Linked DNA regions of Homo sapiens. The protein of the gene in region 1 purifies or fractionates together with the protein of each later gene. This does not show direct contact. Each region holds a gene or a part of one and is shown in the gene's direction. Other genes may lie near its edges.

Region 1 (4,476 bases):
TTCCTTCCTTCCTTCTTTCCTTCCTTCCTTCCTTCCTTCCTTCCTTCCTTCCTTCCTTCCTTCCTTCCTTCCTTCCTTCCATTTTTGAGACACAGTCTTACTCTGTCGCCCAGGCTGGAGTGCAGTGGCACGATCTTGGCTCACTTTAACCTCTGCCTCCTGGGTTCAAGCAACTCTCCTGCCTTAGATTTCCGAATAGCTGGGATTACAGGCATGCTCCACCTCACCCAGCTAATTTTCATATTTTTAGTAGAGATGGGGTTTCTCCTTGTTGGCTAGGCTGGTCTTGAACTCCTGACCTCAGGTTATCTGCCCACCTTGGCCTCCCAAAGTGCTGGGATTACAGGTGTGAGCCACCGCACCAAGCCCCAATAGCTTTTTCATCTTGCTTTGTCATCCTGGTACTTTTAACACTGATATTCTGGTATTTCAAACCAATGTAGTGGAGCCTTGCTATATGGTCTGAAAGTTTTTGTTCTCCCTAAATTCATATGTTTTTCACAATTTATGATGCTTTAGTTACACAGATGAACCACATGGGCTGGACTAGGGGTGGGGCGGGTGTTAGGAAAATTGGGGCAATCACAGAGCACCTTGCAGAGGCACTTCCTTTACTTGGCGTGGACAGAGTTAGCTCCAGCTATCACCCCTTCTCTAAAACCTTTACAGATTCCTCGGATTAGAAGCAAGGCCCTTATCATTGTGTACTTTCCATCAGTTATTTGTGGTAAATACCCCTAACTAGACTAGAACTTCGATGAAGGTAGATCTGTGCCTGTTTTGGGTGTTCCAGGCTTTGTCTTGCACACGGTACTTCAATATACTTTTATATTCTTTTTCTCTTCTCTGTTTCCATGTCCCCTTCGCGCTTTCTCAAGTGTTACTTTGCAAACGAATTCTTTAGGGATCTGGCTAAAATGCAGTTTCAGATTCAGTAGTTCTGCATTTTTTTTTTTTTGAGACAAAGTCTCACTCTGTCGCCCAGGCTGGAGTGCAGTGGTGCGATCTCAGCTCACTGCAACCTCCGCCTCCCGGGTTCAAGCGATTCTCCTGCCTCAGCCTCCCCGGTAGCTGGGACTACAGGCGCATGCCACTACGACCAGCTATTTTTTTTTAAACGTATTTTTAGTAGAGACGGGGTCTCACCGTGTTAGCCAGGATGGTCTCGGTCTCCTGATGTCGTGATCCTCCCATCTAGGCCTCCCAAAGTGCTGGGATTATAGGCGTGAGCCACCGCGCCCGGCCTAGTTCTTCATTTCTAACAAGTTTTCAGGTGATGCTTATGTTGGTAGTCCTCTGAGACTATCACACTTTAAGTTTCAGGGTGTTAGAAAAACGACCCAGAACAGGCTACACGTAGTCAGTTTCCTGGGTTTAAATGTGAATTCTGATTTTACTAACTGCGATTGTGGGCAGTGTAAGCCTCTTGCTTTCTCCGTAAAATGAGATACACTCAGCACCTGTTGCATGTGTTATTGCGAACATTCCGTAAAATAATGTACATAGAGGGCAGTCAGGTTCGGGTCGCGGTCAGAGTACAATTAATAGTAATTACGAATGTGGGGGCGGAGCCGACAACGGAAGGGGTGGAGCGTCGCCAACCGTTGCGCATGCGCAGTCCCCCTTGAACGCACCTCAGGTAAGACTCTGGCGAGTGGCTTCCCATGGGCGGTCGGATTTCGGGGTCCCTAGTGCGACGAGAGTGGGGCGGTCTTCTGCGTGGGGCCTCGTCACAGTTCTGGGGGCATGTGGAGGATAGTCAGGTGTCACTGCCTTAATTCACTGGAGGCGAGTGTTTCCGGGTCGCTAGGCGGCCGTGGTCTGGCGGCCGGGCCGTGCTCCGTGCGTGCCCGCGCGTGTCGCCTGCAGGCCCGGGCCTAGCGTTCCGCGGGCTAGGGGAGAGCTGAGGGCAGCCGAGGGCACCAGGGAACCGGGGGAAGCGGGAGCTGGGTGGGACCGCGGCAGGAGCCGGGAGCCGGGGGAGCGGAGGCGGCCAGCTCTCGGCCTCTGTTGAAAAGTCGTCCTCTGCACAGCTAGGCTGGGAGAGACGTTGCTGCTTGAAACCGCGTAGCCTGCAGACGCTAAGCTGGGAGGCCGCCCCGATTCCCTGGAGCGCATCCCGGGATAAGGGGCTTCCGACCCAGCATTGCACATTTGGCTTGAGCTTGTGTCCCCGAGTCAGCGTCTCAGCCCCGTGTGATGTTAACTGCATGACACACAGCCCTGCGCCGAATCTGTCAGAGGCGGCTTCGTGTTAAACTTCACCTAAACTTCCCGGAATGATGCCTTTCCCTGTGCCGAGAAGGCAGGCGCTGGTCTGCCGTGTCTCCCTTGCCGCAGCTAGTAAACCTCACTTCTTTGTGGGTGGACAGGTGTATCCCTGGTGGTCTGTAGCAAAGGAACTTGAAGTTTTATCAGCCTCCTGAAGCCGAGAGCCTCAGTGCAAAACGTATATGTATTTTTAAAAAGGTAAATACTTTGTTGTACGGTGTTATTTGGAGGCAGCTATGCTCACCACTATACACCAAGGCAGCCGTACAGTATTATTCGCACTTTATTTTCTTTTCTTTTAACCCTGGCCTACAGATGGACTTTATTTCTTAGCACCACCCTCTCTTAAAACAAAATTTTACTTCGATTCCTTGAATAATGGAACTGGCTGCAGGCGGTCTTTGTTCATTCCTTGAACATTAAAAATAACCCCAAGAGGCCGGGCGTGGCGGCACACGCCTGTAATACCAGCACTTTGGGAGGCCGAGGCGGGAGGATCACTTGAGGTCGGAAGTTAGCCTGGCCAACATGGTGAAACCTCATCTCTACTAAACATACAAAAAATTAGCCAGACGTGGTGGCACACGCCTATAATCCCAGCTACTCGGGAGGCTGAGGCAGGAGAATCACTTGAACCCGGGAGACGGAGGTTGCAGTGAGCCAGGATCGCACCACTGCACTCCTGCCTGGGAGACAGCAAGACCCAGTCTCAAAAAAATAAAAATAGGCCAGGCGCGGTGGCCCACGCCTGTAATCCTAGCACTTTGGGAGGCCGAGGCCTGTGGATTGCCTGAGCTCAGGAGTTGGGGACCACCCTGGGCAACAGGGTGAAATCCGTCTCTACTAAAATACAAAAAATTTGCTGGGCCTGGTGGCGGGAGTCCCAGCTCCCAGCTACTGGGGAGGCTGAGGCAAGAGAATTGCTTGAATCCGGCAGGCGGAGGTTACAGTGAGCCAAGATCGCGCCACTGCACTCCAGCCTGGGCGACAGAGCGAGACCGTGTCTCCAAAAATAAAATAAAAAAAAAATAACCCCAAGAGAGGCATCTGTACTGAGCATGACTTACTTTCTGTCAGTCATGTACAGCATTGTAGTGAATGGAGCAAAACAACTGTCCCTTCCCACCACTCAACTGCCTCTTAGTTATATATGAATTACTTTGTAAATTTCTTTGCTTCATTTCTTTTAAATAAGAATAATAAAGTTTTAATCTTTTGGTCCCCAGGGTGATCACATTATTAAAATGAGGGAATTTGGGGGGTGGTGGGGAGGGCCACCTGGTAAGATATCAGCAGAATAATCCTACAAAAGGAAGGTTATTTGATTACACCCACCCTCAGGCATTGAAAAGGGGTCGGAAGTGAATGGAGTAAACACCTGACAGCAGCGAGCTGGGATTGAGAACAAAAGAGCACACACAGGACAATAGAAAAATCTGAAAAACAAGTGGTTCTCCTCTTCTGGACTTTGAGGTTATAAGGAGGCTGACTAAAAACTTGGGTTTACATTAATGTCTTCAGTAAGTCTTATATTCTATTTTCTTAGCTTATCTTTAATTTGAAAAAGAATAATGACACAAACGCTTTTTCCTGATTAGCTTTTAAAGGAAGACAATCAAGATCTAACCGGTCTGTAGTTTTGCCACTTAACTGGTTCATCACCCAATCAGTTTCCATCCCCTGCCCCCATTTGTATAAAAATTACTGCGTGTCTGCGAAAGGGCAGATTACTGGCTCATGCCTGTAATCCCAGCACTTTGGGAGGCTGAGGTGGGCGGATTGCTTGAGCTCACGGGTTCGAGACCAATCTGGGCAACATGGTGAGACCCTGTGTCTACTAAAAATACAAAAAATACAAAAAAATAGCCAGGCATGCCAGTGGTCCCAGCTGCTCGGGAGGCTGAGGTGGGAGGATTGTTTGAGCCCAGTGAGCTGAGATTGTGCCACTGCACTCCAAATGCCTGAACTATGGCACAGTTTAGTATATGTTGTATTAATAGTTTAGTATATGTTGTATTATTAGTATGTATCAGTATATAGGATATCTATACTATCTATAATATATAGTATATGTAATAGTGTATGTTGTATTAATAAATGAAGAACTCCAGCCCTTTAGAAAGTGTAGAACCACTTGAGAAAGATCTTACTTTTGTACGGCACTTTACAAAGAGCTGTTTATATATTGTATCCATTTAGATTATT
Region 2 (3,208 bases), on another chromosome or scaffold:
CTCCCCTTTTGTTGCCCTCTGACCAGGGATCTAGGGCACAAGTGACTATAGGGGCTGTGCTTGGGGCCTGCCTGCCCCTTTCTCCTTTGGTTTCCACCTTTAATAACCAAGATTTGACCGTAATTTTTAGACAAAGATAGTTCCATCATGGGAGAGATAGCTTATATCTGGTTAGATAGCATTGCCCACCTAAAATTCCTACTCTTTTAACCCCTTTCTAGCCGCCGAGACCTGAACTTTGAGCGTGGAGGTGATATCACCCTCAGGTAAGACTTTAAGAGATAATGCATTGCCTGTCTCCCTGGATCTTCCCTAGGAGCTTGTGTCCCTTAGAAGAAGGAGAATCTTTTGCCAGGGAACTTCCTTGTCATGTCCCACCCCATCCTATTTGGTAAATCACTTCCCTCTAGGTCTTCCCCCTTTGAATCCTCTTGGTGGCATCAGCAGGGAGACACAGAAGTGTCTTTCCTCTTTGGAGCCAGATATTTTTCCAGCTGCACTCCTAGGCAGAGGCCAGTGAGGGAGTGCCAGGGGCTCACTGCCTTCTCCCCAACACTGTGTCTTTAGGTGTCCTGTGATGCTGGTGGTAGGAGACCAAGCACCTCATGAAGATGCAGTGGTTAGTAGGGAATTTTGGGGTGAGTGAGGGAGGAGGGTTGGGGTCCTAAAGTGGTGGTCAGAAGAGTATCTTGCCAAGGGGATGTCCTGTTTGGCACAGGGAGATCAACTTTGGGGCACTAAGAATTTGATTCCTGGTAAGGAGGAACTGGGTAGGGAGCTGATAGAAAAGGGACTGGGGTCTGGGTTCCTGGGTCCCTTACGGGGGAGGCGCCACAGTGGGCGTGACCTCATTCATTCAGCCTCCTGCTTACTCCAGGTGGAATGTAACTCAAAACTGGACCCCACCCAGACCTCGTTCCTCAAGGTCAGTAACCTGTTCCTGGGCCCCCGTCCACAGTCATATATCCTCTCTACATGCAGCTGCTAAGCCTCCAGGGCCCGGCATGGGAGCAAATGGGGTGAACGAAGAACAAAACAAAGGGGCTAGAGTGAAGAAGCTAGGGAAGAGAGACCCTTTCCACCTCTCTGCATGGCTCATTTATGTGTGTTTCACTTTTTCTGGGTGGTGCTCTCCTGAACAGATGGCTGACTCCGGAGGTCAGCCCCAGCTGACTCAGGTGAGTGCCGCTGCCGTCCATGGGATGGGGAAGGGACATAGGATACCGGTGGCACTGGGCTCTGCCCTTTGCCACACACCCGGCCCCACAGTGCCGCAGCCTCAGGCTCCAGCTCTTCCTCTAACCTCATCTCACCGTCTCCCTCGCCTCTTCTTACTTCCGCAGCCAGGCAAGCTGACCGAGGCCTTCAAGTACTTCCTGCAAGGCATGGGCTACAGTGAGTATCGGGACAAGAGCTTGCTGCACTAGAGGAGAGATAGGCACTGACGGGGTGGAACCGTTTTAGGTGAATGCCTGGACTCACCGCTATCTGCCCAATCGAGCTCGTTGATCCCCTGGCTTAGTTATAACTAGTCCATAATCCAAGGACCACACCCTGAGTCGCCAGCCCCCCTTCCCCACTTCCTCTCTGACTGCTTGTGCATCGTGCTGTCTCCACAGTGGCCTCATCCTGCATGACTCGCCTGTCCCGGTCTCGTACAGCCTCTCTGACCAGTGCAGCATCCGTTGATGGCAACCGGTCCCGCTCTCGCACCCTGTCCCAGAGCAGCGAGTCTGGAACTCTTTCTTCGGGGCCCCCGGGGCACACCATGGAGGTCTCCTGTTGAATGGCCCTTGTTGCCCTAGAGTGGGACCCAGCCCTCACCTCCCCCAGAGCTAACCTGGGAGGTGCTGAAGGGGCATTGGGCCACCGTAAGCAAGGGAAAAAGGGCAGATCATGCGGGGAGATGACCTTGATCTTTGATTGCTACCCTAACCTTGACCTTTAACCCGTGATTCCCCCCAGCTCCTGGAAGAGATGTCCTAATATCTCTTAGGGACCCAGACCCCTAAATTCTCCTCCTCCCCCATTTTGATGTTAAGGTGGAGAGGGCATATGCATCCTCTGTCCTGATCTAGGTGTCTATAGCTGAGGGGTAAGAGGTTGTTGTAGTTGTCCTGGTGCCTCCATCAGACTCTCCCTACTTGTCCCATATTTGCAAGGGGAGGGGATTTGGGGCTGGGGCTCCATTCACCAAAGCTGAGGTGGCTTCTCATTAACCCTTTAGGACTCTGAAGGGTATGGACCTACGTGAATGTGTGTCAGGGGGAGACTTGCTGGTGGGTTAGTGGTCCTCAGGATGTGATAGAAACATCCAGTGTAAAAAGGAAGTTGGAATGGGAGTTGGCGGGCAGTGAACGAGTGTGGGGAAGGATTGGTGCTGGGGCAACAGGAAGGGGCCTGGGGCCGTTTGGCTGCACTAACTTTGGTAGCTCAGTGTGCATCTAGAGTGGGACTGGGGAGGGAGCTAAGCTTGGGCTGGGCTGCTTGGGGCTTGGCATAGGGTGGAAAGGGCTACCCTGGGGCTCTGACCACACTGTAGTATGTGTGGAGGGTGCCCTCCCGTCTCCCACAACTTCTGCTATAACAATAAACTGTAGAGGAATCTGAGTACCGTTATTATTCTTTGTCTAGGTGTGCCTGCATCATGCTCCTCTTCCTATCTTCTCCCTGTCCACGTCTCATATTCTCTTCTCAAAGTGATATAAACCCTGGGAGAGGGCCTTTGTGGCATAGGCACTTCACAAAATATGACCACATAGAAACTGGCTCTTTTCCAATACAACGGTGTTGCCTTGATATTGTAGTATTTTTAAGCCTGGGAGAGAGGAACCATTTAGATCTTAGGAGACTTCCTTATCAACTATGGGTAACTGAGAAAGGCCACAGGATTTCAGAGATACCACCAACATCACCACCTTTAAGAAAGAATTGAAGAGGCTGGGCAAGGTGGCTCGCATCTGTGATCCCAACACACTTGAGAAGCTGAGGTGGGCAGACCACTTGAGCTCAGAAGTTTGTGACCAGCCTGGGGAACATGGTGAAACCCCGTCTCTGCAAAAAATACAAAAATTAGCTGGGCTTGATGGTGCACACCTGTAGTCCCAGCTACTAGGGAGGCTGAGGTGGGAGGATCACTTGAGCCCAGGAGGTGGAGGTTGCAGTGAGCCACGGTCACACCACTGCACTCCAGCCTGGGCGACAGAGT

What was found.
Region 2: the proteins of CEBPZOS (region 1) and NDRG2 purify together in Homo sapiens (co-immunoprecipitation; one large-scale study listed by IntAct). This does not show direct contact.

The regions. Positions count from the first base shown.
Region 1 is NC_000002.12:37,194,882-37,199,357, forward strand, and holds the start of CEBPZOS (protein CEBPZOS), read left to right. Parts: upstream 1-1,614; 5' UTR 1,615-1,639; exon of another isoform or gene 1,640-2,469; intron 2,470-3,612; exon of another isoform or gene 3,613-3,791; intron 3,792-4,476.
Region 2 is NC_000014.9:21,016,174-21,019,381, reverse strand, and holds the end of NDRG2 (protein NDRG2), read left to right. Parts: intron 1-221; coding exon 222-266; intron 267-567; coding exon 568-619; intron 620-718; coding exon of another isoform or gene 719-755; intron 756-860; coding exon of another isoform or gene 861-877; coding exon 878-925; intron 926-1,142; coding exon 1,143-1,178; intron 1,179-1,343; coding exon 1,344-1,395; intron 1,396-1,619; coding exon 1,620-1,786; 3' UTR 1,787-2,610; downstream 2,611-3,208. UniProt on the Homo sapiens protein: Contributes to the regulation of the Wnt signaling pathway. Down-regulates CTNNB1-mediated transcriptional activation of target genes, such as CCND1, and may thereby act as tumor suppressor. May be involved in dendritic cell and neuron differentiation.